4 separate regions of the Homo sapiens genome follow, and all the other regions are linked to region 4. Evidence: fine-mapped expression QTL. A gene starts in region 4. Each other region holds a variant in brackets. All regions are shown on one strand. Distances are between the middles of the regions. Region 1 overlaps PLCXD2 (phosphatidylinositol specific phospholipase C X domain containing 2). Region 2 overlaps CD96 (CD96 molecule). Region 3 overlaps CD96 (CD96 molecule). Region 4 holds the start of CD96 (CD96 molecule).

What was found. PIP is the estimated chance that this variant, and not a neighbour inherited with it, causes the effect.
Region 1: its variant is fine-mapped to the expression of CD96 in whole blood (TOPMed, PIP above 0.99). The same link has a PIP of 0.9 or more in blood mononuclear cells.
Region 2: its variant is fine-mapped to the expression of CD96 in whole blood (INTERVAL, PIP above 0.99).
Region 3: its variant is fine-mapped to the expression of CD96 in whole blood (INTERVAL, PIP 0.96).

The regions. Positions count from the first base shown.
Region 1 is chr3:111,694,136-111,702,411 of GRCh38, forward strand. The region is part of intron 1 of PLCXD2 (phosphatidylinositol specific phospholipase C X domain containing 2); the gene reads left to right. Among named protein-coding and RNA genes, the nearest start is that of PLCXD2-AS1, 21 kb to the left of the region's middle. The variant A/G (reference allele first, on the strand shown) is at 3,328.
Region 2 is chr3:111,642,578-111,650,853 of GRCh38, forward strand. CD96 (CD96 molecule) reads left to right here. Exons shown (of 14, transcript NM_005816.5): 13 at 4,966-5,089; 14 at 7,121-8,276. The coding sequence ends at 7,229. Among named protein-coding and RNA genes, the nearest start is that of PLCXD2, 28 kb to the right of the region's middle. The variant TA/T (reference allele first, on the strand shown) is at 4,511.
Region 3 is chr3:111,616,265-111,624,540 of GRCh38, forward strand. CD96 (CD96 molecule) reads left to right here. Exons shown (of 14, transcript NM_005816.5): 9 at 7,490-7,558; 10 at 8,069-8,140. Among named protein-coding and RNA genes, the nearest start is that of ZBED2, 25 kb to the left of the region's middle. RefSeq lists enhancers at 239-739, 740-1,240. The variant G/A (reference allele first, on the strand shown) is at 3,201.
Region 4 is chr3:111,538,689-111,546,964 of GRCh38, forward strand. CD96 (CD96 molecule) reads left to right here and starts at 3,509. Exons shown (of 14, transcript NM_005816.5): 1 at 3,509-3,621; 2 at 6,358-6,714. The coding sequence starts at 3,561. It overlaps LOC105374039 (a long non-coding RNA gene), which reads left to right. Exons shown (of 3, transcript XR_001740846.1): 3 at 3,247-3,315.

The DNA of each region.
Region 1 (8,276 bases), 160 kb after region 4:
CTGATCCCTCTCCTTTTCCCCTTTGATTCTCACCCTCCTCAGCCTTCACTCCCAGCTTCTCAACCTCTCTCTGTTTCCTCAGCAGATCCACTGAGGTCTTTCCAAGAGTCTATCTCTAAATTGGCATACCCCTACCCACTGCTTAATACTGCTTCAAGTATGTCAAAAGCTATTAATGCCAGAGATGAATATTGCAGTTGGTGCTCAGCAAACAGAAGATACTCCAGCTACCAGTATTCACTGTGCTTAGAGGAGAGTGGTGATTAAAAATGACTTTTTCTCTTATCGCATGTTCATTTTCAAGATAAAGAGTTTACTATGTGCATTGAAGAGAGCTTTTTTTTTTTTTAACATCTTGCCCATTTCATAAGGAGTCACTGGTGAAAACCTGCAGCAACTGGCACCAAATTTGCAGTTTTTCCAAGCAATATCTTAACATCCTTTGTAGACTAGTCCCTTTAGTCACTGCTCTGTGGCCATGCCCCTCAACATGGCTGTACCTGGAAGCTCATAGTCCTGGCAGAGCTGGCTGCTGTTGTGAGTCAGGAAGATGTTCCACAGGGAAGTGAGCTGGTGACAGCCTCCATGGGAAGTCAGAGCTGGACCCTAAGGGATCCGGAGTCCAGCTAGGCCGGTGCTCTCTGAAGGGCCAGAGAGGTGTTCTGGCATATCCTCATCACTGTCAAAGTCTGAGAGTGGACATTCATGCTGAAGGAGGAGCAGCTCCTAAATGGCTCTTCTTCCAGAAACTTGGCCTGCTGATTTTGCCTGTATTGCCTGTATGCATATTGAGACATATGTTGTCAGCCATTTGTAAAATGAAGTAGTGGTTTCTCTAAACCTCAGGAATATATTCAGAGTTTTTAATCAGGGTGAACTTGAGTGGGAATGTTTTGACTGCCTTCGTTTTAGTACATTTGAAAAAAATGTTGAATTTCTTAAAAATCATAAGTCATTAAAATCCAAGCACTTTTAGTGAGATAATGTGTTTGAGGGCCTAAATCTCATTTTTTTACCCATTTTCTAAAAAAAAAAAAAAAAAAAAATCTTGTTGAAACATTTTTAATAGAAATTCTATGAAGATAGGGTCTTCTGGCTCTCCATAAATCAAATCATAAAATCTTCTTACAGTAGTCTCTTTTTATCTGCAAGTGGTATGTTCCAAGGCTCCCAATGGCTGCTGAAACCATGGATAGAGCCAAACCCTATACATCCTGTAATTTTTCCTGTACATACATGCCTATGATAAAGTTTAATTTATCAATTGGGCACAGTAAGAGATTAACAACAATAACTAGTAATACAATAGAACAATTATAACAATATGCCAGCATCACTGCTGTCGCACTTTGGGGTCATTCTCAAGTAGAGTTAGGGTTCCTGGAAAACCAACACTGTGAAACTGCAACAGGCATGCTTGGCCATGCTTATGTCTCTAAGAACTCATCATTAGTATTTTCAGTTTGTAGAAAACATACAGAAAAACTTCTGAAAACATTACTGGTTCTGCTGTTTACATTAGGGAAAGATTATCTGTTGATGGTTATATTGGTGTTTGAGTGTTTTAATGATAACTGAGATGGCTAAGTGACTAATGGTTGGGGAACCTCTACCAAGTAGATATGCTAGGCAAAGGGATGATTCACATCCTGGGCTGGAAGGCCTGTGGGATGGCAAAACACTTCATCACGCTCCTCAGAATGGGGCACAATTTAAAACTTATGAATTGTTTATTTTTTAAATTTTCCATTTAATAGTTTTGGACCACAGTTGACTGTGGCTAACTGAAACTGTGGAAATTGAAACTGCAAATAAGAAGGGACTACTATTTTTTCTCAGAAAAATTCAACTCTTTAAAATTGGTTAACAACTCATGAGGTTGACATCTCTGAAACCCTCAAAGATGGCAGTGATGAGGGAGGAGGAGCTATTGTTTAGCTGGACATCTCTGATTCAATTCCATTGGAGGGGGGCATCTGTTCTCATTTTCGTCCTTCAGAGATGGGAAAAAATTACTCTTTTTCTTGGCTTGAACACTTATATCTTCTATCTTTTTATAAGCATGATACTGCTTTCTCTTCTGCTGTTTGCACAGATTGTCTTCTGACCTAGTTGAGCCTTTACTGCTGCCCAGACACCTTCTGGTAGCTAGCATCATATGAATTACTTAGCTTTATTAAGATAAAGTGTGAGCAAAGGGTTTTTTTTGGTCTTTTGTGTTTGGGCACCTTTAATATCTTTTTGCTGTTGCTGGGCAGGGAAGAGTCTTTGCAGCTGAGATCTTATTAATTTGCCTAGAATTTTTTTTAGTTTATATATTTTTTATTAATTAGGAAAACTAAATTTGACATTCAATGCAATTTTATGCAGCATCAGCTATAGTGGGTAACTGGAAAGATAGCCGCACCTGGTTTTTTTGCAAGCTGCCTGCATTACTCTGACCTCACTTGACAAAGTATAGGCTAATAGAGAAAGAATATGCAAATTACAGACATGTGACCTAAAATTCAGACTGAGATAAAATAGACAAGCTTTAATTGAACACTCTGACTATTCGTTATAGAAAATACATGCATATCCAATATATGTTTTTAGCCCAAGCTTACGATGGACCGACCAGATGATCTTAGTTTTGATAGAAATAATATGATTTAGGTCTTGATAAAAATTTGGAGCTTACATGGCATTTAGATGACTCTCAAAAATGAGCTCAAAATAATATTTGTCTTTAAAAGAATTTTTAGAGAATAATTATTATCTATTAGAAGTTTTCTATTGATATTAGTAAACATATTTCCAAATAAATGAAAGGTGGGCTTTTTTTCCACTGAATAAGAGAATTTTCTGGATTTCATTTAAGATGGGCCAGTTTTAGTGCCAACATGTACACATAGACATGCACATAAATACTTTGGTAACCGAGAAGACCTTAGCTCCAAACACGTCTGTAGATATTCCATCCAAACTCTTGCTATCCAAACATTTGCTATAACTTATAAGATTTATTTTATCCAGAATTCACTACTTAAATAAAAAAATCCCATCGTGTGAGCTAGCAAAAACATTTAAGTTGCAGGTACACCTTGTCAAAAAGATGGAGAATGTGTTACATCCATAGTTCAGCTACCCTCCCAGCAGGCTCGAGCTGTGCATTAGCGCTCTCAACTTACCACATTATTGAGTGAGAATGTCTTCTAAGAAAGCAAAAAGCCTCTGAATAAAACAAGCACACTCGAGAGGCCTAAAAAGAAAAATTGGGTGATAAAGCATATTGAGAGAGATGAACTAACATAAACTTGGCCATACTTACATCTCTAAGAACTATGC[A/G]TTAATATTTTTAATTTGTAGAAAAAAATACAGAAAAACTTCTGAAAATATTACTGGTTCTGCTGTTTATATTAGGGAAAGATTATCTGTGGATGATTACATTGGTGTTTGAGTGTTTTAATGATATTTGGTATTTGAGAAAACTGATAGGGTTTTTTTGATGGGTTGGGAAGACATTACTGTTTTTTCCATTTCAAATAATGGATTATATAGGCTTCTACTCTCAAAAAATCTGTCATTCAACATCTTTTTGGCAACAGGTTGGATTTGTTTTTCCATAAAAATCACTTGATGACATCTAATTTTATGTTGTTAAAAATAAAAAGTTTAAGAACATCCTCAGAATTTTCTGTCTTATACTTGCAAATTGTGTAGTCACTGTATTTATTTCCAAGTACTGACATAGGAGCAGACTAGAGATATTAATAATTTATAATTTTAGTTTTAGTGCCAATTTGAATTTCAACTGTAGAATACTATGATCCAAACTTACTCCTTTTGATGTTGATTTTGGGTGTAACCTAAAATAAATGACTTAAACTACAGACTTCATTTTTCCTAGCCCTAAATGTTAATTGCCATGACAGATCCTCAAATATAAATATTTACTGAGGTTTCATGGCTTTATTTAAAAACCAGAATTATTTGTTTCTCAGATAGTATCATCCAAATAAAAGATGACACAAATTTCTTAATAATTAATAATAATAACATGTTTGAGCTCATTCTATTAGCCAAGGACTCTTCTGGGTGTTTGCCTGAGTTAACTCATTTAGTCTTCACAACAGACCAATGAAGTTAGTACTGCTGTTGTCCACATTGTGCAGATGAGGAAACTGAGGCCCAGCATTTTATTCACATAACTAGTAGGCAGTAGAGCCAGGATTATGAACTCAGGCAGCCTGACAACAGACTCTGTGCCCCTATCCACTGCGGGGACACTCCATTTAGCTTATTCAGAGCTATGGTAATTCACTAAGTTAGGTGTTAGGACTCACCATTTGTGAAGTTCTTTCTTAACTAGTATCTTACAAAGTGCAAGTCTGAGTCCTTTGGGACTGTGTAGACAGAAAAATGATTTGTTGGTAGTCCTGGAAATTGCAAGTGAGAATACTTAAAAAGATTACTGGAAAAGAAGAAATTCAGTGGTTCCCAACCCATTAGTGTTCTAGAGACAGGGGATGGGAATAGAACCTTCCAGTACTGGGTCACCTTATGGATGGGAGGGAAACATTGCTGGAGGCATTGAGAGGCAGGCCAATTAAGGATAAAAAGAGACAGTGTCAGAGGTTCAGCCCAGACAAGCCAGGAACCTCAGTCTAGGGTGGTGGTCTGTCTCAGCCTTTTGTTCATAATCACTCCCTGAAGGAGTCTTATTAGGCATTTCTATTCCTTATTTCCCCCCCTCCTCCCCTGTGAAATTATAACACTCAGATGTATCTGTACTTTGTACATAGAAGAATAAGATTTTTCACTCCCTAAGAACAAATTTTTGCAATGTCAGTGCCTAAAGGCACAGATACACTGAATGGTGTCAATACACATGGGGTGGGGAGAGTGGGATCAGTGAAGCACCTGCAGGAACTAATGGGCTTCAAAGTTAGAAGGACTTAGAGACAGGAGGACCTAAGGGAGGTGAAGACAGGAGGTTTTCTTAAATATGTGAAGTCAGGAGTTCTTTGACTTAGGGTCACCATCCTCACCTACCCAGATGGGGAGTTTCTCTCTATCTTCTTATAAGCTTCACTTAACTCTTGTCTCAATCTTCCCTCCATGGCTACAAGTGTGGTCATCATGTAATCTGAAATGCCATTGTACTGTAATGAAATGTATCATTTCATAGTGTGTGTTTTGAATTCTTTTTGTTTTATTTATAAACCAGGTTCCCAAGAAGCCTGCTTTAAATTCTTTTTATTTGAGCTCAGAAAATGGCAGCTACTCCAATTTGCAAGAAATGGGTAATGAAAGTGCTTTAAAAACTAGAATGCACTCATTTGAGATCTCTAATCCCCAAATGGCAACCCTCAGGAAGAATCAAGCAGTAATTTGTGTTCCAGATAAAGAGCAAACTGATTGTGCCTGGTCTTCACAAGGCCAGCTAGCTCATTTTCTCATACCTTACCTCTCAAATAATCTAACACTACCTAGGAGGCAATAACTATAACACTGAGTAAAAATCTTGCTAACCTTTTCGCATTCAAATCTCTCTCTTCCCGTGTGACTTTGCTGCCACAGGGACTTGATTCTGAGCTCTGTAACCTAGCGCACATCCCAAGGATCCTAGTAAACCTTAAGTAACCTAATCTAATCACATACTAGGAGGCATGATAAGGAAACCAAGGCCTCCCAATATTTTTCTTCTTCACAAACAAGCTGTGGTTATTTAATTGGTTAAAGGGCAGGGTGTATCTTAGAACAAAAGGAGTGATGAAGAAAGCATCTACCAATACATGGGAAAGGCACTTCACCAGATTATTATTTGAAGGTTTGAAAGTACTAGAAGTCCAGCCAGAGAAGACCATGCCCAGAAATCAGAGAACTTTTGGGAAACTATAATCTTACATTTGTGGCTGTAAGTATCAAGCCTGGGTATACATTAGAATCAGCAAGAAGCTTGTCAGCTTCCGTCCCAGAGAGATTTTGACTTAGAAGGTTTGGGGTGAGCTCATGGGCACTGGTGTTTTTTAAAAGCGCCCCCTGCTCTGCCACCTCCCAGTGATTCTGATATGCATCTAAGGTTGAGGATCACCACTTTACATTATAAAGTGCTTTCACATACATGATTCAGGATTTTTGTATGCACACAGAAAGGAAAAAGAAACACCGTTAATGACTGTTGACTGTAAAAGAAAATAGGAAGAAACAGGGGTAGTAATTGTGAAAATGAAAGGATTAGAGAAAAGTCAATTTCTAGAAACTGGAGGAAAAAAACTTCACCTTTCTAAGGGCTAAAATTAGTCCTATGCATATAGAACATTAAGGAGGGACTTGTATGTCCATATTTACTGCTATATATGGAATAGTTTTTAGATGACCATAAAATTCTCAGCACAGAGAAGTCTGAAAACAGTCATTTAGTATTTGATGCCAATTACTTCCTAAGATCATATTGCTTCTCCTCTATAAATGAAATATATTGGAGAAGAGGAAAAAAAAAATTTGTTGTTAGTAAAAAGGTGTGTTAGAAAATGTCATATTAATATTCGTATGTGTATTTCAGGACTGTATAGACAGACAATATACCTCAGCAGGCTCTTAACAGCTTTCAGATAGTTATAATTAATAATTCTGCAGGTGAAAACTGGCAAGTGGATGATCTTGGATATAACTGAAGGATGAAGTAAAGCCAATGCTGTGGGCTCTCAGACTGTGTAGGGCGGGGCGGGGGGTCAGGGGCAGAATATAAAAGTCAGGTTGCAGCGTGGCAGAAGTAAAGAAACTTGTGATCAAAAAGTCAGAAATTAAATTTTAAGATTTTCAATGTGGGTGATGACAAACTTAGACTGTGACCAAAACAGTGGTGGTGGCTATAGTCAACAGAGTGGAGGCTAAGTTTTCATCTCCATGTCAGCTAATAAGATAGAGAGGAACAATGAATCAGGTACAGAAAATAAAATCTTCTAGACCATCAGTATTTAAGGCAAGAAGCTTCAGTTAATCAGCCCTTCACACTCTGATTTCTGACTAATTAAAAATGGCTAATAATAGCAATAATTACAGTTCAGCACTTACTAAGTGTCAGTATTGTTCAAAGCACTTTGCTTACATTTCAATATTCACAATAATTTTGTGACAATAGGTACTATTGGCCCATTTGACAGATGAGGAAACTGAGACATGGAAAAAGCAACTTACTCAATATGGGTTACAAATGCTGGGGAGAAAATATAGACATATTTGGGGTGAGAAAATATTTTACAGAGTATCAGCAAAAGTGAACAGAGTCCAGAAAGGGGCCTGCCTATCTGTGTATGTTGCATACCAACAGTTTCCAGGCTATAAGTAGGGGCCTGGTAAGAGATGAGTCTGAAATAATGCATTGGTACCATATTGAAGACAATTCTAAACCCCCAGTGTTGAGTTTGAGCTTTATTTGGAAGGCGGGAAGTGGGAGGAATGTGTCATAATCAAAGCTGTATCTTAAGAAAACTACCTTTTAAGTATGAACAAATTAGAGTGAAAGGACCCAAATTAGGGTTTCTGTTTGTTTGGGTGGTTTTTGGTACTATTTGACAGGCAATGAGTCTATCAATGAGAACAGTGGCAGTTGAAGGTTAATGAAAGAGACAGGTTTGATGTATGTTACAAAGGTCAAATGTAAGGTTTTGGTAACTGGTTAAATGAAGACGGTGAGAGAGAGGGAAGAGTTTAAATAGAATCCAAGATTTCAAGTCTGAGTGACTGGGTGACTACTGGCAGAAATTCAGGAGAGGCACTTTGTGGGGATGAGAGGGCCAGCAGGAGAAGCTAGACTTTGAAAATACGCACTTTGTTGTGTGAGCAGGCCATTGGAGGCAGGCCATAGCAGGAAGGTGGGAATGTAAGTTTGCAACTTACAAGAGTCTGGGCTAGAAAGGAAGCTTTTGGTGTCATCTGCATAATGATACTGTGGTAAACTGGGGAGTGGGACTGAAGTCTCTGAAGGTGGACAGAGGAAGTGAATACAGAACAGATCCCTGGAAAACATTTAAATTTAGGGACAATAAAGACGAGTCAAAAAAGCAGACAGAAGGTAAAGGAAGGATGGGAACACCCAGAAATGTGCAGAAATATACACTGAGCACAAGGGAATGGAAGGTTCCACAAACAAACTGACTTGGCAAACCCACATAGAAACCAAGAAGAATATGGCCATTTGAATTAGAGTAGCAACAGAAGGAGAGAAAGTGGACTCAGATGGAAAGAAGTATGTCATAGCAGACAAAGGCGGCAGGACTGGCCTACACTTT
Region 2 (8,276 bases), 100 kb after region 4:
GCCAGTGGATCATGAGGTCAAGAGTTCACGACCCGCCTGGCCAAGACAGTGAAAACCCGTCTCTACTAAAAATACAAAAATCAGCCAGGTATGGTGGCAGGCGCCTATAATCCCAGCTACTTGGGAGGCTGAGGTGGGAGATTTGCTTGAGTCTGGGTGGCAGAGGTTGCAGTGAGCAGAGATTGTGCCATTGCACTCCAGCCTGGGTGACAAACTGAGACTCCGCCTAAAAAAAAAATAAATAAATAAAAGAAAAATTACCGACAAAACAAAGTCCAGGCCCAGATGGATTAACAGCAGAATTCTACCAGACATTCAAAAAAGAATTGGTACCAATCCTATTGACACTATCCACAAGATAGAGAAAGAAGGAATCCTCCCTAATTCATTCTGTGAAGCCAGCATCACCCTAACACCAAAACCAGGAAAGGACATAACCAAAAAAGAAAACTACAGACCTATATCCTTGCTGAACATAGATGCCAAAATCCTTAAAAAAAAAAAAAAAAAAAACTAGCTAACCAAATTCAACAACATATCAAAAGGATAATCCACCTTGATCAAGTGAGTTTCATACCAGGGATGCAGGGATGGTTTAACATACACAAGCCGATAAATGTGATACACCACATAAACAGAATTAAAAACAAAAATCACATGATCATCTCAATTGATACAAAAAAAAATTCAACAAAATCCAACATCCCTTTATGATTAAAACTCAGCAAAATTGGCACACAAGGGACATACCTTAATGTAATAAAAACCATCTATGACAAACCCACAGCCAACACAATACTGAATGGGGAAAAGATGAAAGCATTCCCTCTTAGAACTAGGGCAAAACAAGAATGCCCACTCTCACCACTCCTCTTCAATGTAGTACTGGAAGTCCTAGCCAAAGCAATCAGACAAGAGAAAGAAATAAAGGGCATCTAAATCAGTAAAGAGGAAGTCAAACTGTCACTGTTTGCTGATGATGACTGTTTACCTTGAAAACCCTAAGGACTCCTCTAGAAAGCTCCTAGAACTGATAAAAGAATTCAGCAAAGTTTCCGAATACAAGATTAATGTACACAAATCAGTAGCTCATCTATACACCAACAGCAACCAAGCAGAGAATCAAATCAAGAACTCAACCCCTTTTACAATAGCTGCAAAAAAAAAAAAAAAAATGAAATACTTAGGAATATCCTAACAAAGGAGTCTAAATTCCTCTAAAAGAAAAACTACAAAACACTGCTGAGATAAATCATAGATGACACAAACAAATGGAAACACATCCCATGCTCATGGATGGGTATAATCAATATTGTGAAAATTACCATACTGCCAAAAGCAATTTAGAAATTCAATGCAATACCCATCAGAATACCACCATCATTCTTTGCAGAATTAGAAAAAACAATCCTAAAATTCATATGGAACCAAAAAAGAGCCCACATAACCAAAGCAAGACTAAGCAAAAAGAACAAATCTGGAGGCATCACATACCTGATTTCCAACTATACTATAAAGCCATAGTCATCAAAACAGCATGCTACTGGTATAAAATACGCACATAGACCAATGGAACAGAATAAGCCCAAATACTTACAGCCAACTGATCTTCAACAAAGCAAACAAAAACATAAAGTGGGGAAAGGACACCCTTTTCAATAAATGGTGCTGGGATAATTGTCTAGCCACATGTAGGAGAATTAAACTGGATCCTCATCTTATACAAAAATCAACTCAAGATGGATTAAGGATTTAAACCTAAGACCTGAAACTAAAAATTCTAAAAGATAACATTGGAAAAATTCTTCTAGACATGAGCTCAGGCAAGGATTTCATGACCAAGAACCCAAAAAGAAATGCAATAAAAACAAAGATAAATAGCAAGCACCCAAAAGCAAATGCAATAAAAACAAAGATAAAAAGCAAATGCAATAAAAACAAAGATAATTAAACTAAAGAGCTTTTCCACAGCAAAAGGAACAGTCAGCAGAGTAAACAGATGACCCAGAGAGTGAGAGAAAACCTTCACAATCTATACTTCTGACAAAGAACTACTATCCAGAATCTACAACTAACTCAAACAAATTAGTAAGAAAAAAACAAACAACCCTATCAAAAAGTGGGCTAAGGACATGAATAGACAATTCTCAAAAGAAGATATACAAATGGCTAACAAACATATGAAAAAATGCTCAACATCACTAATAATCAGGGAAATGCAAATCAAAATGACAATGCGATACCACCTTAGTCCTGTAAGAATGGCCATAATCAAAAAAAATGGTAGATGTTGGCATGGATGTGGTGAACAGAGAACGCTTCTACCCTGCTAGTGGGAATGTAAACTAGTACAGCCACTATAGAAAACAGTGTGAAGATTCCTTAAAGAACTAAAAGTAGAGCCATCATTTGATCCAGCAATCCCACTACTGGATATCTGCCCAGAGGAAAAGAAGTCATTATTCGAAAAAGATACTTGCACATGTATGTTTATAGCAGCACAATTCACAATTACAAAATCGTGGAACCAACCCAAATGCCCATCAATCAATGAGTGGATAAAGAAACCGTGGTGTATATATATATATATGCACTATGGAATACTACATAGCCATAAAAAGGAATGAATTAACACATTTGCAGTGACCTGGATGAGATTGGAGACTATTATTCTAAGTGACGTAACTCAGGAATGAAAAACCAAACATCATATGTTCTCACTGATATGTGGGAAGCTAAGCTATGAGGACGCAAAGACATAAGAATGACACAATGGACTTTGGGGACTTGGAGGGAAGAATGAGAGGGGGCGAGGGGTAAAAGACTACAAATATGATGCACTGTATACTGCTTGGGTGTTGGCTGCACCATAATCTCACAAATCACCACTAAAGAACTTACTCATATAATCAAACACTACCTGTACCCCAATAACTTATGGAAAAAAAAAATAAAATAAAACCTTTTGTTCTTTCCTTTATCTAAAACTTTGGACGTAAAATATTATATCCCACCATATTACCATGGTAGAGCTTAGTAAATTTTGACTTGTGTGAAACAGAACTTTGTCTAGTCCTGAGTTGACCAATTGTCTCTTTCATGATCATGCTACTCTAGTGGTTTGAACTATGTAAACTTTCTAGTCATCTGTATATACAATGTGTCACATAATTATGTATTATTGGACTACATGGGTCTCCAGGGAACCCTCAGTTTCTACTTTGACAGGGGTGAGAATCAGGAAGACCTCGAATCCCTGGATGTATGTTGTATGAAAGGGAACTGTCTTCAACACTTCTAACCAATGCTAACATGATAACATCACATGGTTTCAGTCCAGGCTATGTAAAAACACAGAAAAGATGTGATAACTAATATTACATCTAGTTCTTTGACCTGTATTTTTTGAGATTTTGCTATATGAAAAGCAGTGTAATAAAAACGGGGCAATGAAATAAATTTAAATCCTTGTCTTCACTCACAAGCAGTTACTACCTAGCCGAGACAAGGAAAGAAAACCAATCCAGATAGCTTTTTGCCCAAATGATCCATGTAATCGAAATACCTAAAGACCTATCTATCATGTATAAGAAATTTCACTGGAGTATCATTAGCAATAACAAAGTCTGGAAACAATTTAACCATCTAACATCGTGAGATAAATTAAATAAACTGGTATATCCATTGAACTATCCAGTCATCTAATAGAATGAGGTAAATCTCTGTGTGGTGATATGGAAAGTATTCCAAGAATGTTTTTTAAGAAAAAGAGGCCAGGTGTATGTCTTTTGGCCTCTTATTCTTAAAAAAACATGTAAAATGTAAAATGTTAAAAATGTAAAATGATTTTTACCTTCTTAGGATACTTTAAAAGCTCAAAATCACTAATCACTAGAGAAATGCAAATTAAAACCACGATAAGATACCATCTCACATAAGTTAGAATGGCTATTACTGAAAAGTAAAAAAAAAAAAAGAAGAAGAAACTGATGCAGGTGAGGATGTGGAGAAAAGGGAATGCTTATACACTGCCGGTGGGAATGTAAATTAGTTCAGCCATTGTGGAAAGCAGTTTGGCTATTGCTCAAAGAACTTAAAAAAAAAATTACTATTTGATCCAGCAATCTCATTATATTGGATATATACCCAAAGGAATATAAATTGTTCTACCATAAAGACACATGGACACGTATGTTTATCACAGCACTATTCACAAAAGCAAAGACATGGAACTAACCTAAACACCCATCCACAGTGACTGGATAAAGAAAACGTGGTACATATACACCATGGAATACTATGAAACCATAAAAAGGAATGAGATAATATTCTTTGCAGCAGCATGGATGGAACTGGAGACCATTATCCTAAGCAAACTCACACAGGAATAGAAAACCATCTACAGCATGTTCTCACTATTAAGTGGGAACTAAACATCGAGTACATATGGACACAAAGACAAGAACAACAAACACTGAGGCCTACTGAAGGTTGAGAGGAGGGTAAAGAT[TA/T]AAAAAAAAAAAAAAAAAAAACCCTACCTGTCAGGCACTGTTGATTACCTGGGTGACAAAATAATCTGTACACCAAAATCCCCACAGCACATAATTTACCTATATAACAAATTTGCACATGTACCCCTGAACCTAAAATAGTGAAAAAAAAGAAAAAGAAATCATGGACAGAATAGTGTGTATAATATGCCCCCAACTGTAATAAAAAGGGTATATATTCATGGTACATATGTATGCTTATATATATCCACAGAAAATTTCTGGTAGGGTACGTAATTAACTCTTAAAAGTTATCACCTCATGTAGGTAACAAGGCTTAGACATGCCCACCTCCAGAGTATGATCACAGCCAATGTTGAAGAAAATATGTTTCACGTAGGAAAAATGGTTTAATCCTGTTTTCCAAATGCCAAAGTTTGGGATTAAAGTTCATCTTTCTTTATGCCCTTTTCAGGTATTGTGGTCAATAAGCCCAAAGATGGAATGTCCTGGCCAGTGATTGTAGCAGCTTTACTCTTTTGCTGCATGATATTGTTTGGTCTTGGAGTGAGAAAATGGTGTCAGTACCAAAAAGAAATGTGAGTATAATACTAACATATGTAGGAACAGATTAATTTTTCATTATAAAATATTCATCAGTACAATATATTATTACTCTATGAAGTTCCTCCCATATTTTAATGGGGAAATAATGCTCACAGAAGCTCAGAGAGATTATATAGCTTTCCCAGCATTACATAGTTGGGATTAAATACACAACTCCTGACTCAGTATCCCTCTCTGCATTGGCCTAGTCAGGCTGTAACATTCGTCAGATAGAGCAAGTCCGTGGACATGAAATGAGAACTGAGCCTCACCTCTCCTCAAAACTAAAACTGATTTTTCTTTTAATCTTCATTATTTTTTCATTTTCATGCATCTTTGAACTGCCTAGGCTCCACTGGTCATAGATGCTCAAGTGTGAAATTGAGTGAGAAAGGTAATTTTAAGAGATTTCCAGCTGCTTTTTTTACCAGAGTGGGCTTTTACTGCCCTTTTCTTTTTTTCCCAAGCAGAAAAGAAAGTAAGCATTGGGTTACCCCATTTTTGTCTTATTGAAATATTTTCCAAAAGCCTTCTCCAATCGGCAGTCTGAAATGGTACATAAGGTTAAGCCTCATTTTTCTGACTTGCTATTTTGAGTCAGTCTGGGTTGGGCCATAACTGGAAGGGACCCCAGTACCCAGAACTGATCTTCCACTTGTCTTACTACTACTCTAAGATAACATTAACCATTGTGCCATATACTTTCCTACCTTTTGCAGAGTATCCTTGAAGACTCTGTAACCACATACAGGGAGTGGTGAACAAAACACTAAACCAGTAGTTAGAAATTCTGGATTATTTTCCAAGGACTACAATTTGGCCACCACATGACCTTGAGAAACTCATAATTCCCCAAAAAACAAAAGTAAAACAAAAGTGCATGTTTCGTAGAATTACCTATTAATACATATGAAGTCTCCATTAAAGCATCTAAAAATTGGGTAATAGGGATTAGAGAGCTTTATATTAAATGAACAAATGAAATCTGAAAATCTGAACTGATTTTTTAAATTGTTCTGTATTCAAATGTTTGTTTTATATGGAGATGAGAATCAATCTCTCTATCCTCCTTCCCCCACTACCCACTCTTTATCTCTCCTAAGATGCTATGGATTGCCAGGGCATAGAGGTGTTTGAGTGATGAACATAAAGATGTTCACAGATATATTTCTGTTGCCTGATATCAAGATAGCTAGAGCATTTGTATAGCTAAATTCCATACTAACTTGGCTCTTTAATGCATTTCGGAAAAAGAGATTACTTGTACTAACATAAAATAGTTCTTTGTACAAAGATGACTTTAAGAATGTTCACTGATTCAAACAAAAGGGATTTAGGCATTATCTAGCCAGTACTCGGGGATTGAGAAGAGCTTTACTTCCCATCTCTACCCTATCCCCGCAGTACATAGTGAGTGTTTGGGCAAAGGCTGGGGCTAGGGTTAGCAAAGAGGCTGTATGAAAAGCTTCAGTCTTAAATCCTAGGATTTTAAGATTTAGTCTCTGGAGGAATATTTTAATCCACATAAAAGAAACATTTCTTCTATTAGGAGGCAGTTGTCATGGAGAGTATCAGTTCTGGTGAAAAGACTTGAATTGTTGGTCTGGTTCTCTTGAGCAAGTTGTTTAAAACCTCTGAGCCTCAGTTTTATCTGTAGAATGGTGATGCATTTCCTGCACACAAAGTAAATAATGTTATGATACATTTCCTGCACACAAAGTAAATAATGTTATGATAAAAATGCTCAGTTTTATCTGTAGATGGTGAGGCAATTTCTACATACAAAGTAAATAATGTTATGATAAAAATTCTTTGCAAACTACAAAATACCGTATAGATCATGAGGTTCAAATGTGACTAACAGGCACAGGGTTATGCCAGCAAAAATGCTGAAAGAACTGGGAGAGTATGTCTCTTTCTCATCAATCTGTGTTCTCCTTTAAAGAAACAACACATGTCTGTGTGTGTGTGTGCATAAGACTCCCTCAATTCTTAGCATTGAAAGACCAATATTTTGTTCCTAGAATGGAAAGACCTCCACCTTTCAAGCCACCACCACCTCCCATCAAGTACACTTGCATTCAAGAGCCCAACGAAAGTGATCTGCCTTATCATGAGATGGAGACCCTCTAGTCTCGTGAGACTTTGCCCCATGGCAGAACTCTGCTGGAATCCTATTGAGAAGGTAGACATTGTGCTTTATTAATATAGTCGCTCTTCAGCCATGCCTTTGCTGCAGCTGAAATGGAAGTCAGAAGTGAGTGACCTGTTTTCCCAGCAACTCACCCTCTTCCATCTCCAAACGCCTGAAGCTTAACCAAGAGTGAGAGGATATGTCATGTTCACACTCAATGCAATTCGTAGTGGTTTTCTTGCTTATGTAAGAAGTACATATTAGTCTGCCATCTTTAAAAAAAAATACAGTATTTTCATTTAAATTCTCTGATGGAGGGACAACAATGGTTTCAACTGTATGCCCATGCCTGATCCTCTTATTTGAACATCTATCAACATTGTAAACTCTTTGCCAAAATCCTGGGGCTTTGCTGCATTCCCTAAGATAATTACAGGAAAAAGAAAATGTAAAAGTGCTAACAAGGCTGCCAAGTAATGGAGAAGTATGGTTAGTCTTCATATTGAAATTCTGTTGCTTATTTTCATGGAAGGAAACAGAATACTTTGCACAGGAACCACATTTTCAATCCTCCTTCACTGTCTTCCTACCATGTTCAGCCCAGACTCCTGCCACATGGACCAGGATGAAGAGGGATCAAAGAGATAATTAGCCAAAAACCCAGTAGCCTAGAAGATACAAAACTCCACTGGCCTCTAAAATTATATTAGCCAAGAGTGGTTTCATTTGAGTGCCTTCGTGTGTATGTCCATCAAACTGGAACCAAACTGTTTTGTAAGTAAACAGGCAGCCTAAGCCCAACCCTACTTTCTAATTCCAGTTATTCTCTTTTTCATCTGGGGATTTACCTGTTCATTTAATCTGCCTGTTTTGATCTGTTTTGAAAAAGATAAAGAGCCTCAAATCAGACCAGCACTGATTAATTAACCCTGCTCCTACCAATCTTTTTTAAAGCAGTTGAAGCAGAATGTATAGGTGTCAGAGAAGAAACCTAGTCAGCCAGACGTGCTCTGTATTCAGCAATAGTTTGTGAATGAATAAATTAC
Region 3 (8,276 bases), 78 kb after region 4:
GATAATTCAGTAAATATTTTTTAAATGGAGAATTTTTTTAAGTATAAAAAAGAAGAGATTAACAAAGGAAGGCTTTAGGGAATGCAGAGGATATCTCCCTAAAGAAAAGCCATCTGGCTAGGGCTGATGTCTGGGTAGCCTTATGACAGGAAGCTGAAAGGTGGTGGTGGGACAGGAAGCTGAAAGGTGGTGGTGGGACAGGAAGAGAAGCTATCAAAGGCCTGCTATTCTGGGTGGTTGCGTGCTAGACATCATGAGTGAGCTCTTCCGTGGCTAGGCCCTGATGATGATGATGCATGCTGCAGCAAGGCTAACTACACTTATAAGGCTACCAGAATGGAATAAATATAGTCTTTAGTGTCAGACAGCCTTGGGTTCAGTTGTTGTCTCTGCCACCTACTGGCTCTGTAGCCTAGAGCAAGTCATTCTGATGGCAGCAGCTGCCCGACTGGACTAGCTGCTGTGGGGATGCCAGCTGTAGTGAGGGAGGCCTGGCTGGGACTGTTGAGCCCGTAGAGGCTGAGAACAGGAGGGAGCCTGCCCCCTACTGACTTGGCAAGGCAGGAGCCCTGGGCTTTCAGGGCAGCTGCAGCCACCCAGCTGTGGCTCCAGACCCTGACACCCCTGCTCTCTTGAGGGCCTGGGAACACCCCCGCTTCTGCAGGCTCAGAAGGGCCTGCTTCCACCCCCTGGACTCTTCCCACTCCCAGCACCTGCTCCAATTTCAGAGCAAAGATGAGGCTCAGCCCAGGCACTGTCACAACCTGGCCAGGTGTGTGCACACTTGGGGCAGCACTGACACACCAATCCCCCACCTTGGCCCCCTCCAGACTTTGGGCGCCAAGGAGCACAGGAAGGAGGCAGCAGGTGGAGATGGGCTGAGGGCAGCTGGGTGCAGGCCTGCAGGTGCCATTTGGTGCAAACAGCCTGGGCTATGGAAGGCATGATGACAGTGGGAGGCTGACTAGGTTCCTGGATGGAAAGGTGTAGGTCCCCAGTGAAACCCCACCTTCAGGCCAGGCATGGCCTGAAGCCTGGGAGCCAGGCTGCCAGTTCCAAGTGAAGTCCATGGATATGAGTAATAACTTCATCGATGACCACTGGGCCAATTGGATAGTGCTTTTTCCTGGCCTGCCTATGGCCATCTATGGACCAATCACCATGCACTTTCTCCCTTCTGAGCCCATGAAAAACCGGGGATTCAGCCAGACTCAGAAAGAAGTCAAGACTACCAGCTGTGGGAGGGAGCTACCCACTATGGGTCTCCTCATCCAGACAACTTGCCTGCAGAAAGGAGCTACCCACTACAGGTCTCCTCTCCACTGAGAGCTGGACACTCATTGGGACAGCCTGCATATGGAAAGGAACTACCCACTTCAGGTCTCCTGAGAGCTGTTCTGTGGCTCAGTGAAGCTCCTCTCCACCTTGCTCACCCTCCAGTTGTCAGCATACCTCGTTCTTCTTGGGGGCGAGACAAGAACTTGGGACCTACTGAATGGTGGGACTGAAAGAGTTGTAACACAAACCCAGCTGAAACACACCTCCCACCTGCTCACCACATTGCAAGCAATGAGAAGGAGAGAAGAGCTGTGGCCCTTCAGGGAGCCCAGACCTAAGGCCTCCCAGGCCAGGGCTGTAAAACCCTCTTTGGAGCTCTACAGTTCCTGGCATCTCCAAGCTTTCTGGTGCCACAGTGTTCCCCTTGTCCAGACACCAGTGCCTGCAGCAGAAACTGCTTGCCATACATCTGGTCCAGCAGCAGCATCACACAGAGTCGGCACCCATGCTGGAGCCTGGAGATTCCCACCCTGCCTCAGCAGCCAGTGTGCCTGGCTGTGTGCAGTGGCCAGACCCCACGCTCACTCGTTCACACACCCCTTGCTGCTCTGCACCTGGCTCACCCTTGGCAGGTGTGGGATCCAGGCTGGTAGCACAGACCAAGCACAGCCTGCCAAACCAAGTGGGTGGAATGAGCCCAGAAGTGTGAGCAATACTCAGGCAGAAGGTGCCACTGGCCACAGAATTTCTGGCTGGCAAAGCAAGACCTCAAGGATCCCGTGACAATTTCACCTCTGTAGTAGTTTCCTTGTCTTAAAAAAATGAGAGTAACATTATCTAGTTCATACAATTATTAGGAGAATCAAATGTGAAAGTGCATAAAAAACAACAATGAAGCTACGACTCATACTGTCCAGTTTGAGAAGAAATGTCATGATTAAGAGTCTAGTAAGCAAAAACCATCTCAAAATAAATCAAGACCTTTATATGTAATTTTTAATTCCTTGAAGGAGGAAACAATGACCAAATTTATTTCTCTCTTTTTTTTTTTTTTTTTTTTGAGACAGAGTCTCGCTCTGTTGCCCAGGCTGGAGTACAGTGGCACGATCTCAGCTCACTGCAAGCTCCGCCTCCCAGGTTCACGCCATTCTCCTGCCTCAGCCTCTCGAGTAGCTGGGACTACATGTCCAGCTAATTTTTTGTATTTTTAGTAGAGACGGGGGTTTCACCGTGTTAGCCAGGATGGTCTCAATCTCCTGACCTCATGATCCACCCGCCTCAACCTCCCAAAGTGCTGGGATTACAGGCATGAGCCACTGCGCCCGGCCTCGCTTTTTTTTTAAGTTACCAGCTTATTCTTTATGCTCCACTTATGCTACTTTGCAACTGCTCACTTGCTTCTTTTATTTGGCATATAGTAGGTCCATATTAAATTATTTTTAAAATCTATGTTGTTTGGAAAATATTTCAGTATTTCCCAAAAGTTAATCAACCATAGGTCTTCTAGCCTTCCTCTACCTTTCCTTTCTCTAGCAGTTAGGTCACTAGGAAGACTGGCAAGAGTATAGGTTAAGAGATTCAGTTCTGCTTAATGATGTCACATGGAGATGACCAGAATTAGCTCTTTTAGAACATGTTTCTGTCTGCCCACTCAATTCAGCACTGACTGGAGCTGTCTTCTAACTTAATTGAATTTCCAGTGATAGCATAAAAGGGTGGGTTTTTTTTTATTTTAGTGAGAAAATTTTTAAAGAGTTAAAATAGAAATGAGCCAGGAAGGCTTCAAACCTCCTCATGTAACCTCATGGCCATTTCTGAGCTAGTATAAACAAAACATTTTGTGTGAAGTAGTGTTTACCTCTAAATTTCATCTTATTTCCTGGAGACATGGGTCATTATAGTGTAACTCTGGATACTTGCAA[G/A]ATTTGATAATAATAAACATTTACATTGAAGAAGGAATAAACAATCAGCAAACAAAGCCATCAACTCCCTATCACAGAGTTTGTCATCTTACTTGCCTACATAGTATCTCATGATTTAGAACACACTATTGAATATTGAAGAGATTTTGCTATGTTGTGAAATATAAACTTAGCCTTAAAACAAAAGGTACAAAGCAAGCTTTCTCACATCTGGAAATATATGATCAATATGAATCTTTCAAAAACATGGCTATGAGGAATGCAAATAAAATTTTTTAATTCTCTGCATGATATCAAGAGACAGTCAGACATGTTCTTATATAGTTACAGAATCTCCAGGTCAGGTTCTAAGAAGGGATTTTTTAAAACAAAACAAAACTCCTAAGAAATAAGCAGTGTTGCTGCACACTGTGCCACAGTTTGGTCACTGTTCTCCTGCTGCTTTTGTCTTGGATATGCACTTTGGCAGGTAACGCCCCACCTAGCTCTCACATCCAGTTCAACTCAGCACATGGAAAAAACACCCCTGAGGGCTTGTAAAAGCCCAGCCCTGGAATGGACAGGTGCCAGACATGGCTATTACTAATCCATGACATGTGAGACCACACACTGGGCTTTTGCATGGCTATGCCCTCTGCCTGAAAGCTCCCACCCTCCCTCCGCTGGCCACAATCTCCCACTAAATTCCTTGGGAAAGCTTTCCTGGGATTCTGACTGGGCTACCCCTGCTTTAATATGTTCTAGCATTTGAATTGGCTTATGTGATCGTCTGGTTGATGTCCATCTCCTTCATGAACTTAAACTCCAGGAGAGCAGTATTCCCAGTGCCAAGCACAGTGCCTGAAATTTAGAGACTCTCAAATGTTGGTTAAACAAACAAAAAAAATGTATGCAGGGAGTATCAAGAGAGGACTATGTGAAGGTTTTTAGAGATCAGGTCATGGAATGTGAAGGGGCCTTAACCTTGAACCACAGTGTAAAGTGGGAGAGAGAGGGGTAGATTTAATTTATCTAGGAACTACATAGTTCTCTAAAAGACTTTAACTCTGACTTCTACATAATGAGTGAGGTCCCATAGTAAAGGGGTCATTATCCCAATAACCTGTCAAGTTGGTTCAGACCCTCAAGTGAAAGTCTAAAGAAAATTCAGCTGGAGACCAATAGGAGCGAAATAACTTTGTGCTCCCTGGGGAAAGAGACTAGGAGACTAGGTATCATTGATCTTTTTGTTCCCCACACTTGGCATGTATTCAGCCCTCAATGTACTCCACAGCACTGTGTGTGAGAAGGGTAAAGCAACATAGATGTCTAAGTTGGGGCAGAGACATAGTCACACAAGGATTAAGGCAGCATGCATCCCTGAGGCATGTTTCTCCCCCAACAAGGTCCCTAAATAACATAATAGGTAGAATCAAATGAGTGAGTTCTCCTTCTCCTGCAGTAACCCTTGAGAAATGATTTATGTCACATTATTTTCTGACCTCCAGAAGAGAACATTTAATCAGTCATTTTAATATAAATGAAATTCCCAATCAAGTTATACTTCATCAGGATTCCTGTGATTCCTGCCAGAATTAAATCACATGTCCTGGTCAGTGCCAGCACCCAGTGTGGGCAACCAGGCTGGCATAGGAAAGTGTCTGTTGCTTGCAGGTAAGATATATTTTTAAAGGCTGCTGGCAGTTGCTTATTAGACTGAGATTTCTAGGTAGTGGTCATGTAGTTTACAAATAAATATTAAGTTCTTTGATGTTTATTTCCTAGATCTTTTTCATCATCCTCATTATGACAATTGTTATCATAGCACCACTGTTAAGAACAATTCCTTTGAATTTACTTACCAAGTCTCTCAGCAAATACTTTTGGAGGTTAATTCTCAGCATGAGAGAGAGAAGGTAGGGGAGGAAGGAGGAAAGAACCATCTTTATTCATTAGGAAGAGCCTATCATATCTCTCAGTATCTCACAGTGTTCAAATTACTTATACCTAATTTATTTATTTTCTTCTATATAATTTTTACCTTGTCTTGTCCCAAAAGGAATATGAAGTAACTTTAAAAATACATAACAATACAGAATTTTGAAAAGAGGTAACTGAAGGAATTGCTGCAGAGAGAACAAAAGCAAAGTCTTCTTAATGACAGAAATAAAATTATAAATCACTTGGTGATCCATAGGTTTGTAAAATGGTATAACAAGGCAGTTGTCCAGAAGCACAGCCGCTCTTAATGCAGAGACTGCCTGGGCCCTCCTCTAGAGGGCGTGGTGGAGCACAGTCCCAGGGACTTTCTCACTGCAAGTGAACAATGGCGACCCCTCCCCGCATCGTATTAGACTGTCATCTAGTGTCAGCCAATGGGAAAATCCTCAGTACTATATAAGAGCAATTCCACAGTGACTAGGAATGTAGTTCCAATACTCAGTTCAAAGCAATCTACAAAAGCATCATATATGCTTTAGGTAGTCAATCTTGTGCAATTTTTCTATTAATACAGCCTTTGATGAATGGTGGGAGGCAGTGAGCTAGAAGTTACAATTACCGCACAAGAATCTGGTACTGATGGCTCAGTGGGATGGCAGAGGAGAAGAATTGTAGGTGATTCTGCCAGTGAGAAGTTATTACCCTACCACAAAGCTAATGCCCCAGCCTACTATCACACTCTGTATTTCTGACTATTAGCCCTTTTCTAGTGCAACACTTTGGAATGTAGTTCTTGACTTGGGCCAGGCCTGGGGAAGAAAGAATTAGTTACCTTAGATCAACTTTCTTCCAGAAAGACCAAGGTAAATGGGGTAATTGTGGAACTCCTCAGGAGATTCAAGTGGCCTATAGTTAGAATATGCTTGTATTATCAACATCTGCTAAACTGCAAGTGACCTATTTTACAGATTCTAAGACATACTTTTTAGCATTTACTACATGTCAGGCACTCTTCTAAGTATTTTATATGTATGACTCTTTTAATCATGAAGCCACGGTGTGTAAGTATCTTTTTGTAGTTCATTGATAGGCTGCATTGCAAAAAAAGGTTATCATTGATGACCTCTGGATGTGAACTACTTATAAATGCATTAACCACAATGCCAACTTATTCATTTGATTTGATTGCCCATGTTCTCTATTTAAGGCATGTCCTTTCACATAACTGAGGTACCAGGAAAGCTGGCTGCCATTCACTACCAACTAAAGCTTGAGGATGAATGAACATACTGGCTATCATACTGTAATGATATTTTATAGGATACTTTACACAATTATACAGCATTCTTTTTATGAAGATCTGGGGAAAAGTTTCTTTTTAATCACAACAAAAAGAATAACTATTTCTCTAGCTATTCATAATAATACTGTTTTTATCTTATTATATTCATCAAGCACATAACCTATACTCTTTATTTCTTAGCACTTCCTACCAGAAAGGTCAGACCAAATGTGGGGCCCACATCTACTAAGAGCATAAGACATCAGGAAATGCACTTTGTCCACTATCCCTGTTTAGGTTTCAACAGGACTCAACATAATTTTTCTACTGTATTTTCCTTGTTCCTATTTTGCCTTTCTGCTTTTATCTTCTTGTATTGCACATTGATATAAACCACCTTAAATACATTTTGGACCAAAAGAGAAATGCACACAAAATGTATTTAAAATTTTTATTTCCAAGAGATATAAACCTGATTTCAATGGACTGTTGTTGGATATTCTTCTTTAATCTACCTTGCTTTATATAATAGTTCTAAAATATAGAGCTATTTTCAAATGAATATGAATCAGTCTTTCATTTTGGGGGAGTGAGGGGGAAGGAAGAGAATGTAACAATTATGGAGTATAAAGATGGAGAAATGACTTTGCAAACTAACAATTGAAGTAAATATGAAACCATATTTAGCATGTGAAGATACGGTTTTCACAGTAGTATTTGTGAAAATTCACTATAAGGTAAGTTTCATGAGAGCAGGGACCCTGTCTTCATTGTTTATTACTATATCCCCAGCGTGCAGAATAGAGTCTGGCATACAGTAGACACTGAAATAATATATTTTGAAAGTATGAATATAATACATTTAGAATTAGGAAACCGGGTTAATAGCAAAGAAATGATATTGGATATTGATTATTTAACCACAAGCATATTCCTTTTGGATTCGGTTTCATCATTTATAAAATGAGGCTGTTCACTAAGATTCTTTCCAACTCTAATATTCCAGGCTCTTGTTAAATGTAGTGGCACAGTTAAACATACGAATGTAAATACATATAATAATTTGGGAATTTTATTTTCAAAATAGGATATCCAGCTACATCTTCAGTGACCCTTGTAGATGTGAGTGCCTTGAGGCCAAACACCACTCCTCAACGTGAGTTCAGCAAAGTTTTCCTACATGATTGGAAAGAGACAACACACTCACAAGTTTTACTACTGCTTCTATAATGTTGACGTTTCAGCAAACAGCTGTATTTTTCATTTGATGTTTGTTAATATCTTGGTTTTGGGTTACTCTGCGGTGACTATATATTGATATGACAATTTCTATAATCTTAAAAAATAAGGGCTGGTGATTTATTATATTGTATCTTTTATTTGTCAAGGGATTTTAAGGTAATATTAAAGTAGTCTTCACAATACTCTCAGTGATCTGAGTTTGTGACAAGAACAGAAAAAGAACACAAATCAGTGACAAGCTGGCATTAAACATAAACTACAGAGCTTTTGCTTAATATGCCAGCTAGTGTTCCTGCATAGGGAAGCACATTTTCAATTTCAGATTTCCCCAAAGTCACATAGATTAAAAATTCTGTGCATCAAAGCAAAGTTAAATTACAGCTTTCGAAAAAAGCTGGATTCTGAAAATAATTTTGTCTTTCAGCCAGCAATTCCAGTATGACTACCCGAGGCTTCAACTATCCCTGGACCTCCAGTGGGACAGATACCAAAAAATGTTAAGTATAATCGTGGGTCCCTTGAGTCCTCTGGACTTCAGTCATTCATCCGACAGATATATTGAACGACATCTATGTGCTTTGTTTGTAATAATATTTGCAAATGTTCACAAAGCATCTATCATGTTTAAAGTA
Region 4 (8,276 bases):
CTAACAAGTCTTCTGTTTCTCTGTTCTCCTTTCTTCCATTCATTTCACACACGCCCACCCAATTTATCCTTTTAAAATGTTACTTTAAATATATGACTCATATGCTGAAATATCTTTAGGGAGTCTCTCTGACATGAGGAAAAAACCCACACCCTTTAGCCTAGAATTCAAAGCTCTTGGACAGCTTTGTCTGCTCCAAGTCCCCTAATACAGCCTCTGCTAAACCGGAATAGCCCACTCACTAAATGGCCTTGAACTTCAACACTGTCAAGTGTTGGCTCTTCCTGTTTCTTCTGCCTGGAATGACTTAGCTTGCGGTTTCTACCAGTCTGACGCCTATAGGGCCAAGTTTAGATTCCATACTTCATATGCTCTTGGCCCACTCTACCCCTAAGATAACTCCCCCTTTGCTAAAATCCTGCCCTACCTTCTCATTTGGGCTGTGCTTTATGCTGCTTGACTTTTTTGGTGCACATGGATGCTTCCTCCCAGCTAAATGGTAACTGCCTTAAAACTGAGGGTTGTGTTTTATCTTTGGTATTTTAAAATTATCTAGAACTATGCCTCTTCAGTAATCTCTTAAGAATTGACATACAGCAAGTATTTTTTAATTAACTGAAACCTTAACCATCATGTTTTCTAAGCATTTTGGAAAACATGCAAAAGTATAGCACTCCCATTTTTATTTTTAGTAAGTGTTTAAAGATAAGTAAGTAATATTTGAGTTAACCATTATGAAAACCACAAAAGTAAGTTTACCTTTTGCTCAACTTCCTGTTTCTGAAAATGTCCTTTTCTCACTGAGTGTGTTTAGCTAGAGCATTTAAAAAGTTTGTCCAAAACACACAATCATGGCTTGCCTTTAGCAGAAATAATGTGTGTTCCTGCTTCTCTTTGTAAATAATTGAATTTGCCTCTGCAGTTCAAGAAGATCACGATTTCTTTTTGTGTGTGAAACTGACTTGCTTCTGTTTTCTCCTTATGTGCAGCAGACTATAAGGCAGAAGAAACCCTGTGCAATCGGGATATGGTGGGTAGGGAGGATAATAGAAGAGATTGACATGACTTCCATAGAAGAGTTATTTTTAAGTATAGAGAACGCCTGTCTATCCCCATGCTGAAAGAGCCTTTAGAAAATATTACCAGGATTGAAAGGCGGTGGGGGCAATTCCCATCACCTGGGATAGCCGTGCCAGTCTGCGGAGTGTTGCTGCCACCTGCTGCATGCAAACAGCCATGGAGGGGCTGTTGCCTGGGTCTTGCAGCTGCAGGACACCCGAAGTGTAAGCGTTCAGTTAATATTCTGTGGCCATGCATCTGAAATTGTTATACTTTCAGAACCTGTGTGGATCCCAAAGAAAAATTAATCAAATCTGATGGCTTCAGGCCATAGAAGTTTCTAGATATAAGAATCATTAACTAAGCCCTGAACAATACACAGAAGACAGATTTGCCGTATAGCCACTAAATGCATGGCTCAGGTAGCCCAACCCCAATGAGAGGCAAGAATTCTACTGAAAGTAAGTCTGTAGCACTGGAAAATAAACGACCATTTCCATGTTTCTGAGTTTACAGACTTTTTTGGAACAACTGTTTCACTTTAATACAATAAAAGATAGGAGAAGTCTAAATACCCCAAAGAGGGTATTGTTCTTAGAGAATTCAATAAATGTATATTTGAATTGGTTTCTACTTAGGTAAATTCCTCTTAATATGAAAAATGGAACGAGATCATAGAATCCCTTCTCCAGGCTTGTAATGTGTCCTGATTTAATAGGGACACCAACGTGCAAATCAGGATCTTCATAGTGCATCTCCAGGACTATTTTTGCTGCTATGCTTCATAAAACTTTGATTTACTAGAATTTCCAGGGGCAATGGGAAGAGATGAAGCTACCCAGAGCAGTTATGTCTCTTCCTGACCTTCTATAAAGGACTTTGAGTTCCCAGGCCTTCCCTGGAAAATCACTGTCAGTACTACCTGACCCAATATCCCCAGTGACCTGAAACTCATGGGAAGTTGGGAAGGGGTGATAATAAAGGTTTGGGGAGCACTGGACTAGGCAAGCAGTAACTACATCTAAATTCTGCAAGAAATCATTAGCTGAGGAATACTGAATAAGTATGGCAATTATCATGGCAAGTATTTGCAGTGGTGGTATAGGGGGTGATCTGGACGTCCAGGAAGACAGTCGCCCTTGTTTATTTACATGAAAACCTCTCTTCTCCCATCTAAATTTAATCTCCTGAATGGCAAAAGCATTTCCTTCTGTCTTAGCATCGTCCATATTCACCACGAGTCCTTGCATAGGAGAGATTGGTGTATACATGATGACAACCTGACGAAAATTATCTCCACCTCACCTGAAAAGAATTCCCATCTCAGGATTACAACTGGCCTTTTCATTTGTCTTTGGTCTTGCTAGGTGGTACGTATATTCTAGTAATGAGATTAGGGTCACAGGATATTTTAATCATTCATACGGTTGTATGAAGACACACATGTTTATTTGTAGTTATTCTTTGTCCATCAAACTTACAGTAGTCCTCAGTCTAATGCTTGTTTTCTTAATGTTGGAGGGTGATGACAGCCTATTTTATCTCAGGCTGAAAAACTAATACAATTAAATCAGAGAATCATAGCAGGGAACAGTCATCGTGTTCTACGAATAGCCAGACATTTTTACCAAGGGGTCACTTTCCTGAAACCTGTTTGCGGTTCTCTGTAAATAGAAGTAACTAGGCAGATGTAATAAGCCTAATAGCTCACTGAGGTGGGAATTCTCTGCCTTTGGATTCTGATTGTTACTGCCTTGCTTTGGCTTAGGCATGGATAAACTCTTCTGTGGTGAACAAAAATGGCCTCCAGCCAACCTGGTGGGAGACTTCCCTATCTGACCTCCAACCTTCCCTCGTCTTCCCAGACGAGGGGTAGAAAAGTAGCCCTCACTCCTCCACTCCCAGGAAATGTGCATTTCCCTGCAAGAGGAGAGACAATAAAATTTGGTTTGATAGCTGACACTATTCCCTGTTACTTTTCAGATTTTATTAAAATTAAATGTGTTAATTCTTTGTTCTTTCACCCCAGGGCAATTCTGGAAAGAAAACATATCTTAAGATTGAACAGAAAAACTATTATGAAAAACACCAAGCTCACATTTGTTAAATGACTTTGTGCTCTTGAAAAAAATGTATAAAAAGCACATTGCCAACTGCTCTGCGTGATATCCTTTGTTTGGATTTTAGACGCAGCTTGACTGACACAGAGATCCTGAATAAGAGACTCTTTGGATACTGAAAAGTCTCTTAAATAAGGTGATACACAAATTTCAGAGAACAATTTCAACATTGTTCTGTCGAACGTTATACTCAGTCCTGAACCACATTACTTTCCTGTCTACGTTTCATTTCCTGGGGGCTTGCCAAGTGATAAACAGACCCAGGCGTGTGTGGTAGAGTTCGGGTTTTTTAGCACGAAGTGGGTGGCTGGAGTTTGCTTGAAAACATCAATTGACTTTGTGATCATTACAGAAATGCTGGTGTAAGGTGTTCAGAAGACAATGGAGAAAAAATGGAAATACTGTGCTGTCTATTACATCATCCAGATACATTTTGTCAAGGGTAAGACTTCCAGTTGTCCCTTCTTGTCGGATGGGCCGCTTTAGGGGCGGATGGGGCCTCTGTTCATTTAAAATGCCTTGTGACTGCTGCTGAAATTGATCACCAAAGGACAAATCATTACTAAGGGTTTCAGTTATGTATTTAAGCGGCAGGTATAAGAGAGATGCTAGAATCTAGAAATGATTACTAATGAACACTAAAAATAAGAAGGGAATGGGTCATTTGTGCCACTGCTCTGAGGCATTTTCACCCATTTCCTTTCTAACAGGATCTCTGGAGTAATTGGCAAATTGTGTTTCTTGGAAATGAAATGCTCTCCAAATGGTAGCCAAAACAACTGCGGAAAAATTAAAAATTACAAAGCCATCAACGCTCAGAGATCCTTGTTTAACTTTTTTCTCTCTCAAGTACTCTCTTTCTTTTGGATATAACAAGTATTTCTCATCCAAATACTAAGGTCTTTGGGAGTTGAAAACACGTTGAATTTTAATGAGGCATGTGTAGGTATGAACCTGGGAGACAAAGTGGAATCCTTATGACAGTGGGAACGAGAGCCTAATGGGCCTATTTAAAAAGAGAAGGAAGCAAGATTAGTTCTGTATTCCACAGTATGAGAGTATCATAGTAAGCCTGAGTGTCTTAAGAATTAACTGTGCTTTTCAGACATAGCTATGAAAATATTAAGGAGAATTTCTAAATCAAAAGAGATTTGGAATATAATGCTGTAGATAGGATCAGAGCCATATTTTCAGGCAAAGGATAGCTCACAGGAAGTTACATTAAACTGTACTAACCTCTGCCTACCAAACTTTTGCATCCACAGAAGTATGATAATTCCCATTTGTCAAGTACTTTTACTTTTAAGAGGCTTGTTTCTTCTCAGTTGCTTGTCATCTTTTTATCTTTTCCTTTTGTGAGCTTCAGTGGTACTTGTCACAATAATATATATCATTTCTGTAACAGGATTCCATGTTAATTCTAAAACTGAGGCCAACACTATTGAAGGCATGTCACAGTCTCAATGCTTAACACATTTTAAGTGTCCTGTATCACTCAGTCAGACTGCTGATGGGAAAGAGACTCTACTTATGTCTAGTATTTCAGACCATCGATTAGAGGTGATACTAAGTGGAACCTCTACCTAAGGTTAGATGAGGTCCTTTCAATCCTTGTATATTGAAAGTGAAATTTCTTACTCTAATCAACTAGACTGAATTTGGGAGACAGTTTGGAAGTTATGTGGAAGGAAAATAAAATAAAATAAGTAATAATAAAGTTTAAAATAATAAGCATAACATAGGTAATAGTTAACATTAAGTATAGGTTACTTAGAAGTTATATGTAGGCTAAGAAATTTAAGTAGCCCCTCCCAGCATTGCTAACAAGTTGCAGCTGTGAGCTTATCTCAACCTTCCAAGCTTCTTGCCTGCCCCCAGACCCCCACATATTTCTGTAACTCCTGTTTTACCTTACCCCATCTCTGTCTAGCTTCAAGATTGACTGGTTAAGATAACTAAATTGTAAGTTTTCTCAGAATTGTCACGGGTTAAATAATTTACTGTCTTTGCCTGAAACCTGTATCCTGCCTTGTTTTCCCACCTCAAACGACATATAAGCAAGCCTGCTTTCTTTGTCAGAGTCAGCAGCCATTTTGGGCATGAGTCTGCTGTGGGCCTGGATGCCTGAATTAAATAAAGTTCTCTTTGGTCTCTAAAGGTCTCTTTGTCTTCCTTGGCTGGAGTTTTACTGTTATACTTATGAGGGTTATAGAAAGACCACAGACTCTGGGCAACTGAATTCATTCTTTTACTGGAGGTGTGACTTTTTTTGTTTTGTTTCGTTTTTCGTTTTTTTGAGATGGAGTCTCACTCTGTTGCCAGGCTGGAGTGCAGTGGCATGATTTCGGCTCACTGTAATCTCCGCCTCCCAGGTTCAAGCGATTCTCCTGCTTCAGCCTCCCAAGTAGCTGGGACTACAGGCGTGCACCACCACGCCCAGCTAATTTTTGTATTTTTAGTAGAGACGGGGTTTTGCCGTGTTGGCCAGGATGGTCTGGTTCTCTTGACCTCATGATCTGCCCACCTCAGCCTCCCAAAGTGCTGGGATTACAGGCGTGAGCCACTGCGCCAGGCCTGGAGGTGTGACTTTGAGCATACTGTTTCATCTCTCTGTGGCCCAGTTTCTTCCTCATAAAAAGGGGTTAACAACATCACCTATGGCGTGTGAGGGGGATTAAACAAGATAAGATATGAAAGGCCCTTGTAAACATGTATTTTTCAAAGAAATTGCTATACACATATCATTTATTTTTGCAGTTTCAGAAAGCATCACGTGTGTATTATATTCAGCTGTCGTTTTATAACCCAAAAAGCCAATTATATTAAACGTAAGAAGAATCGTCATACTAAGTTTGCTGGTGTGCTTCAATTTTCAAATAGGCTTAATTTTATTCACAGGTAGTCTGAAACCTTCAATTATATTTTGGTCAGACCAACACATAGATAAATATTTAGAAGTCAGTAATTACCTCTAGCTTCTCTACGTAAATGCCTCCTCATTTATATTGTCTCATGCATCTCTATCTGAGTGAGACACAAGCTCTACTCTATTCCTAAAGCAGCCAGGGAGAAATTTCCTCAGTTGCTCCCCTCACCTTACTGAAGTGACTAGGGTTTTTAATTAAGCGTCATTCTATGTGAATTATTTAAACTCATGGCTCATGTTCTTTCTTTTCAGGAGTTTGGGAAAAAACAGTCAACACAGAAGAAAATGTTTATGCTACACTTGGCTCTGATGTCAACCTGACCTGCCAAACACAGACAGTAGGCTTCTTCGTGCAGATGCAATGGTCCAAGGTCACCAATAAGATAGACCTGATTGCTGTCTATCATCCCCAATACGGCTTCTACTGTGCCTATGGGAGACCCTGTGAGTCACTTGTGACTTTCACAGAAACTCCTGAGAATGGGTCAAAATGGACTCTGCACTTAAGGAATATGTCTTGTTCAGTCAGTGGAAGGTACGAGTGTATGCTTGTTCTGTATCCAGAGGGCATTCAGACTAAAATCTACAACCTTCTCATTCAGACACACGGTAAGCATAACTGGTAGAGGGATGTGCTTTCATTCAGCTCTCTCTCATTCAACAAATGTACATTTTAAGAAAAGCAAGGTTAGGCTTGGTGCTCAGCATACAAAGGTTGAGCAGAAAGAGCTACTGTCTGATAAGAGAGACAGGAAGTGACCACAGCATTTAAGTAAATAAATGTAAACTTGCAACAGTGATAAGTGTCGATAATAAATACTGTAACAGTCTTGTGAAGGAGCACATCACAGAGGCCATTGAAATTGTCCTTTAGAAATTAACACCATAGCTTAAGTCTAAAGAATGAGTAGACACTACCACAATTTAGGAGGTGGGGCTGAGGCAGAGTGGGATTGTGAGTAATCCCAGAGAGAGAAAAGAGCTTGCATGAAGCTCTTTGGAGTGTTTGAAGAAATGGGAAAATGCCAGTGGGACAGCAATACAGCAATTAAAGGATAAGGCAGGTAAGGACCAGATCATGTTGGACCTGGTCAGCTTCCCTTTTAAAAGGTTTCTATTTTGATCTCAGAACCATAAGAAGACATGGAAGTATTTCCAACAAAAGGATGGCATGACATTTATAGGCTGACTGTATTTGTGTTGTTTAAAAAAAAAAAGTCATACTGACTTTCATGTGAAAATGAGGTGAAGATGGACAAGAAGGAGAAGGTAGAGACAACTCAGGAGACCACCTCAGTAGCCCAGAAAAGAGAGAGTGGTAGTTCAGGTAGATATAGAAGGAAAATGGCAAATTTTGTTCATTGGGCATAAAACAGATATGATCATAGAGAGAATATAAGACAAGGGCAGTATGAAGGAAGGAGAGAAAGAAGTTAAAGGTGACATCTGGGTGTCTGGCATGCACACCTGAATGGTGGTGCTATTCACTGTGATGGAAGGTAAAGGAAGGTTTGTGGGTGAATTTATGAAAGTGATTCTGGGTATACAATATTTAGTCTAGGGCAGGTAAAGGGACAAAGGAAGCTGCTAACTATGAAGCATTCACACCAAACATACTTTGGAGGCCTGCATTTAGAAGTGGGAATCCTAGATTTAAGTTCTAGCTCCTTTCTGAATAGAAATAAAATTTGACTTGGGGCCTGTGGTGTAAATTCTCTGAGCCCATTTGGAAAATGATTATAATAATGCCTGCCCTAAATTACCTGGTCCTAAAGTAAATGATTTTCATTTCTGCTAATGGAAAACAATGAAAGTGAAAGCCAACAGATGCAAAATGCACTGGCAGTGGACTGGTTCTAACTCAGGGCAAAGTGGCCTGGTAATATAAGAAAAAAAAATAACTCGTGAAGGTCATATTAAAGGGGGCATAGAGCTGTCCAGAACAAGCAACAGGTATGGATTTATAGCCTCCTCTCCATGTCTTATAACTTACTTGCTTTAAAAATATGCTGTTGGAACAGTCCACCTATAGGCCAAGGTCCCATCAACTACTATCTTATAATGCCCAATTCCCTTGCTGTTTTCCAGGAGGAAAACACACCACACACACACACACACAGACACATACACACACACACACACACACACACACACTTCAGTTCAATTAAGGA